2 linked regions of the Homo sapiens genome follow. The protein of the gene in region 1 purifies or fractionates together with the protein of each later gene. This does not show direct contact. Each region holds a gene or a part of one and is shown in the gene's direction. Other genes may lie near its edges. The genes, in order: CFAP299 and ANKRD30B.

Region 1 (3,836 bases):
TATTCATGGCTTCAAATGAATAGCATGTGATTTTTTTAATGCTTTTGTTGGTTGTACCTTGACTTGTTCTAGATAGGATTAAAGGGTTTTATCTAAGGAAAATATGAATTTTGGAAGTTTTTCCTTTATAAACATAGCATCATCATTTTTAAAAGCCTTTTAATATATAAAGTATCGTTTTCATGTGTCTTTTGGGAAATTAACTGTGATTAAAAATGTTATTAGAATGAAAAAGATCATATATTGTATGATTCCACTTTTATGAAAAATCCAGAAAAGAGACTCTATAGAGATAGAAAGTAGATTAGTGATTGCCTGGGGCTGGGGGTGGAGATAGGGATGGCTACAAATGTCATAAGGGATCTCTTGGGAGTGATGAGAATATTCTAAATTGGAGTTGTATTGTGCAACTCCATAAATTTACCAAAAATCATTGAAATCACTTAAACTTCATTGTGAATTTTTATGTTAAGTAAACTATACTTAAATAAAGCTTTTATTTAAAAATGTTTTTAGTTAAACCTAAGCAATTATTTATAACATTTTAAAATTATTCTTAAGTCTATAGGGCTCTGAATAACAAAGCTTTCAGTTACTGAAATACATCACACTCAGGCTGAAATAAACCTAATTCTTCAAGGGGCTCTTTTGACCTATTTGCCCCATTCTGGATGCCACAATAGTGGTTTTATTGTCAATTGGGTGTGTCTTGTATATATGTGTGTGTATGTGTATATATATAGGTATATATATATATATATACCTATATAAGTATATATATACCTATGTGTATACATATATACACATATATATACATATATACCTATATATACGTATATATACATATACGTATATATAGGTATATATATATAATAACTAAAACGTTTGTTTCAATTTTAGCTTCAAATTATATAAAAAGTTTTAACTGTGAATAACTAAACTTAAGAAAGAAACTGAACCATGTATGGCAACCCTAACATAACTATATACACCAGGCAATGGAATTCTGATATGATTATTCCATTTCCATATCCCCTAAGGAATTTATAAAACTCTTAACATGCTACAAATACAATAGCAACATTAATGACAAAAGTTTTCAAAAGCAATAGATATTATTTATTGAGTGCTTACCATGTATCAGGCATTACCAAGGGCTTAGCAAAATAGTGTTATTTAATTCACACACCAATTTAGGTATTATTATGCCCATTTTATTATAGAGGAAACTAAATTTTAAAATGTATTACTAACTTACCAGTGTCACACAGTAAGTAGGTGACAGAGCCAGCATTTGAATCCAAGTCTATCCATCATGCAGTAGATAAGAACCTGAATATCATGGGAAGCCAAGCTGGGTGTGAGTTTGGATGCTCCCCTCTCTAGCTACATATCCTTGGGAGTTACCAAAACTCTCAATGCTTTCATCTCCCACATTTATAAAATGAGGGTAATAATGCTATCTAGCCATAATAAAATGTTTGAAACAATTAAATGAGATAATGAATGTGAAGCTTTTAAAACTTCACTCAGAATATAGTGGCTTCTTAATAAACGATAACAAGTATTCATAGAAGAAATAATTACTATTAACTCTGGAGCAAAATATGCATTTTGAAATGAATACACAATTAACTGAGACTGTTAGTTTAACTTCATTCAAATTCTTAGGCAATCCACAAAATATAAATAAGGCAGTGAAATTTCAACCAACCCTCAAGTTCTTGACAACTATTAATATCTGCCACCACATCTGTCTGATTATCAGTGTTATCATTTCTTCTGCCTCTATAACCCTCAACTGTGCCATTTAAAAGATGTATTTCTAAAATTAAATGTTTAGTTGTAATTTCCTGACAATTTGTCAGCAATTACTACATACTAATAATTCCAATCGGATTTTAAAAATAATTTAATAAAGCATTGTGTTCATTAGAAAAATATTTTATTTTAGCAAACTTTTTAAAAATTTCACTAAAAAGTCTTCTTAAAAATCTTCCCAAGTCTTTGTAGATTCTGTGGCACATATACACCATGGAATACTATGCAGCCATAAAAAATGATGAGTTCGTGTCCTTTGTAGGGCCATGGATGAAGTTGGAAACCATCATTCTCAGCAAACTATGGCAAGGACAAAAAACCAAACACCACATGTTCTCACTCACAGGTGGGAATTGAACAATGAAAACACTTGGACACAGGGTGGGGAACATCACACACCAGGGTCTGTTGTGGGGTGGGGGGAGGGGGGAGGTATAGCATTAGGAGATATACCTAAGGTAAATGACGAGTTAATGGGTTCAGCACACCAACATGGTACATGTATACATATGTAACTAACCTGCACCTTGTGCACCGTAGAACTTAAAGTATTATATATATATATATATATATATATATATATATATATCTTCCCAAATCTTCTTATACTTTTACACATATGTAACCATACTTGGAAAGACATAATGAGGGAATTTACATTTGTTCTATGCAGGTTTGTGTGAGAACAGCCACAGGTGATTATCGTTTTTGCATTTAGAAGCTTAGGTTTAAAAAATTTAATTGGGCATTTTCTGGTTGAAAATTTAAAAAAATCATAGATACAATGATTAATAACCAGAATTCTAATTGAGAAAATAAACAACAGTATTTGCATGATGTTTACAAATTGGGTGCTCAGGGCAGATGACCCTGACAGCACATGAATGTAAGCTAAGCAGTTCCAGGCAGGCAGGGAGTCTCTGTTGCTCTACATACTTAAAGGAGAATCATGAAGAAAGAGGCTGCTCAATGGCCAAACTAGTTAAATGCTCAGGTTTAAGCAGGATTCTGTTGTTTTGTTTGTTTTTGTTTTGCTTTGTTTTTGGTAGAAACTTGCTGGATTTTTCAGGAAGGTGCTTAAGAGCACAGAACTAATGAATCTAAGTGAGACATTGAGAGTAGTTTGAGTGACTTGCCCAGGGCTGTATACGATGATTCTAGAGGGACCCGCACTTATAGTCCGCTTGACCTCACTTAAAGTCCTCCAGCATCAGAAAACCAAGAATTCACAAAAATCACAGAGCAGACATTTAACTCTCACAGAGCTGGAGAAGTGATATTTGAAATAAATTTAATCAGGTTTCAGGGAAAAGGGGATTTAACTGACCCAAGAAGGCTATATATAGTAACATAAAATAGTGAAATTATGGCCAAATGTATATAATTTTAGATTATCAGTCATTTTACTTACAAGAACAATGAAGTGTAAAGAAATTTTGGTATTAGCTTATGATAAACACCAAGACTTCACGTTTGTTTTCAAGTTCTTTAAATCGACATCAATTTTATAATTTTTATGTATTCATTTTCTGCTTAATCTAGAAATAATGGCAGTGAATTCATCAAGGTGATCATGAATTGTCTATATGTTCTTCTAGTTCTATCAATTTGTGCTTTAAATATCTTGAAACTTTGTTTTTAAAGGTTCACTCAAGTTTTGAATTGTATGTTTTTCTATGACATTAACCTTGTATCATTATGTAGTGAAGCTCCATCCCTAGTAATGGTTTTTATGTGAAAATCCATTTTGTCTAATATTAGTATACTGATAACTGCTCTTTTTGGATAAAAACTCTCCCGTATGTATGTTTTTTGATCACTTAACTTTCAACCTTTAAGTGTTATTGTGTTTCATGATATATGATACATATATATATTCTAATAAGCTTGTTTTTAACTTAAACATTTAGTTATTTATACTTATTACAAATACTTGATTATTTTAACTTATTATAATCTGTGTGAGTTTGCTAAGGCTGACACTACAAAATACCCCAGACAACGCCTTAAGCAAC
Region 2 (3,836 bases), on another chromosome or scaffold:
TCATTTAGTCAAAAACAAAGTATTTACTACTATGTCTTAGGGTTTAAGGATATAGAGATAAAAGATACAGCCCTTGCCCTCATGAAGCTCTTGGTTTAGATGGGAAACCATAAAATCATTACAATATAATGATTTTTGGAGATAACCAGAATTAATGTGGTGATGCAGAGGCTGAATATTTACAAGGGAAGGTGCAGTGCATGGGAAAGCACAGAAAAAGGAGAAAGAAGGGACTGCTATTGATTTACTTATTTACTTTCTACTTTATGTGTTTAAGTTAATAGGATATAATATAAGGTATTCAGTTCAGCTGAGAAATATGTAATTTCATGAATTATATATTGTTCTGCTATTTTACAGGCTAGCCTCACACCCCTTTTACTGGCCATACAGAAAAGAAGCAAGCAAACTGTGGAATTTTTACTAACAAAAAATGCAAATGCAAACGCATTTAATGAGTCTAAATGGTATGGTAGTTCTTTTTTTTTACTAAAAAACACTTGACTAGTGTTCTAGAGTAATAATGCTCAAGTCAGAAATATTAAATTAACAACATTTAGTTAAAATTATTAGATTATAGTGAAACATATCAACACAAATTATCAGAAGAAAAGCAATTATTTGGACTGGTCAACATAAAAAACAGTGTATAGTAGGACTTATCTTCTCTTATTATATTGACTGATTCTTATTTGTAATCTGATGATTTTGGTTGCATTATTTTCTATTAGCTAAAGTGGTTCTGCATCAGTTTTAAGAAGTATGAACTTTTTTAGTTTGCTTTATAATTCAATATTGAATTATTAACAGTTTTATAGTATTTTTCTAACTTCTCTTTTTTATACACTTTTTTAATTTCTTTTTTTATTATTATTATACTTTTAAGTTTTAGGGTACATGTGCACATTGTGCAGGTTTGTTACATATGTATACGTGTGCCATGTTGGTGGGCTGCACCCATTAACTCGTCATTTAGCATTAGGTATATCTCCTAATGCTATCCCTCCCCCTTCCTTCCCCTCACCCCTCAACAGTCCCTGGTGTGTGATGTTCCCCTTCCTGTGTCCATGTGTTCTCACTGTTCACTTCCCACCTATGAGTGAGAACATGTGGTGTTTGGTTTTTTGTCCTTGCGATAGTTTGCTGAGAATGATAGTTTCCAGCTTCATCCATGTTCCTACAAAGGACATGAACTCATCATTTTTTATGGCTGCATAGTATTCCATGGTGTATATGTGCCACATTTTCTTAATCCAGTCTATCATTGTTGGACATTTGGGTTGGTTCCAAGTCTTTGCTATTGTGAATAGTGCCACAATAAACATACGTGTGCATGTGTCTTTATAGCAGCATGATTTAGAGTCCTTTGGGTATATACCCAGTAATGGGATGGCTGGGTCAAATGGTATTTCTAGTTCTAGATCCCTGAGGAATCGCCACACCGACTTCCACAATGGTTGAACTAGTTTACATTCCCACCAACAGTGTAAAAGTGTTCCTATTTCTCCACATCCTCTCCAGCACCTGTTGTTTCCTGACTTTTTAATGATCGCCATTCTAACTAGTGTGAGATGGTATCTCATTGTGGTTTTGATTTGCATTTCTCTGATGGCCAGTGATGGTGAGCATTTTTTCATGTGTCTTTTGGCTGCATAAATGTCTTCTTTTGAGAAGTGTCTGTTCATACCCTTTGCCCACTTTTTGATGGGGTTGTTTGTTTTTTTCTTGTAAATTTGTTTGAGTTCATTGTAGATTCTGGATATTAGCCCTTTGTTAGATGAGTAGGTTGCAAAAATTTTCTCCCATTCTGTAGGTTGCCTGTTCACTCTGATGGTAGTTTCTTTTGCTGTGCAGAAGCTCTTTAGTTTAATTAGATCCCATTTGTCAATTTTGGCTTTTGTTGCCATTGCTTTTGGTGTTTTAGATGTGAAGTCCTTGCCCATGCCTATGTCCTGAATGGTATTGCCTAGGTTTTCTTCTAGAGTTTTTATGGTTTTAGGTCTAACATGTAAGTCTTTAATCCATCCTGAATTAATTTTTACACCTTATACACTTTTTAAAAAATGCAATATTTGCTGGGCATGGTAGTTGTTGCCTGTTATCCCAGCAGTTTGGGAGGCCAAGGTGGTTGGATCACTTGAGGCCAGGAGTTTGAGACCAGCCTAGCCAATATGGTAAAACCGCATCTCTACTAAAAATACAAAAATTACTGCCATGGTGGCGCATGCCTGTAGTCCCAGCTACTCAGGGGACTGAGGCACGAGAATCGCTTGAACCCAGAAGGCAGAGGTTGCAGTGAGCTGAGATCATGCTACCACACTCCAGCCTGGGTAATAGAGCGAGATTCTGTCTCAAAGGAAAAAAAAAGCAATATTAAATAGAAACAGGAGTTTAAAACCATTTTGTCTTTAGGACGACTATTTGCTTTAATAAAGTTGTTTTCTTTGAAGCATATTAATTTTAGGTTATCCCTATGTGACTGACTATTAATTGCTATCACCAGATACTGTGAATTTATTATTTTTTTCATTTTTTTCATAGTGTATTTTTATTTTTAATTTGTATGGGTAGAGGGAAGAAAGACATCTTTAATTTGATTAATATTTTAGTTAATTAAGATAAGCCATAGGTGAATGATAAAGAGAAAAGAGATAGGCTTTTGATTCACACAAGACTGAGTTTAATTTCTAGCTTCCTCACTTGATAGGTGTGACCTTGCAAACATTACATAATACCGAGTATGACTTTCTATGTGAAAAGGAGAATAATGATATGTGCTTTAAGGATGATTGTGTTGAAGTAACATTATAAATATCAACAGCATTTAATTCAGTGTCTCATACATTCTTATCAACATCATTAACTAAACTTACTATGACTACTACTAATATCATTATTCCTAATATTGTTTTAAGCCTTCAGATTGCTCTCTCTTGTCTGACTTCTAGCTGATTTTTAAGTATAAAATATTATATCAGACTAAGCAAGAAATAGATAATTCTTCCCTTAAATCTTTGCCTCTTTTAGGTTAGTGAACAAATCATAATTCCTTGCCCCTCAAGGGACTTTATGTTAGCCAATTCTAGTATGCCACACCCCAGTGGGACATGAGTCTTTTTGCCCCTTCCTTTTAGATTTGGTGGTGATTTGCAAGGATAAACACTTGAGCACTCAAGATACTTATGTTTGTTAGTACATGTAAATGGTTAATTCTACACTGATAGGCACATATTAAATTGATTCTGCTCATAATAAGTTATCTCTTTGTTATTTTAGCACAGCCCTCATGCTTGCCATATGTGAAGGCTCATCAGAGATAGTCGGCATGCTTCTTCAGCAAAATGTTGACGTCTTTGCTGAAGACATACATGGAATAACTGCAGAACGTTATGCTGCTGCTTGTGGAGTTAATTAGTAAGTGTTTACATTTAAAGGCTAGGTGAAATTTTATTGTTTGTTTCAGGGAGTTTTTGAAAGACAGTGACTTAGTTCACTTCATCAGCCAGAAACTAGGCAAAAAGCCAGACTAGTTAGAAGGAGTACTGGGTCCAGGATTCTTTATTTTAGGACTTTCAACAGCTTTATCCCTAGGGATCCTAATGTTGACTGCTTGATTTGAAGTATAACCCCTAGGCTCGGGATAAACACAGTGTCACAATTTTGATTTTTCTAATTAGTTATTTGGGTCTGGAAATGTCCACTTCGGCAGAAAACCTGATAATGTCCCCTGGGGGCTGTCTTCCATACCTTAATACTTGAATTTTTAAAAGGAATCTAAGGGGTTCCTTAAGTCCAAGGAAGACATTCATTTTGCATAAGTCAGAAGGATTTGGGGG

Evidence for each region.
Region 2: the proteins of CFAP299 (region 1) and ANKRD30B purify together in Homo sapiens (affinity purification with mass spectrometry, with the first as the bait; one large-scale study listed by BioGRID). This does not show direct contact.

Annotation. Positions count from the first base shown.
Region 1 is NC_000004.12:80,863,687-80,867,522, forward strand, and holds part of CFAP299 (cilia- and flagella-associated protein 299), read left to right. Parts: intron 1-3,836. UniProt on the Homo sapiens protein: May be involved in spermatogenesis.
Region 2 is NC_000018.10:14,754,539-14,758,374, forward strand, and holds part of ANKRD30B (ankyrin repeat domain-containing protein 30B), read left to right. Parts: intron 1-360; coding exon 361-467; intron 468-3,276; coding exon 3,277-3,414; intron 3,415-3,836.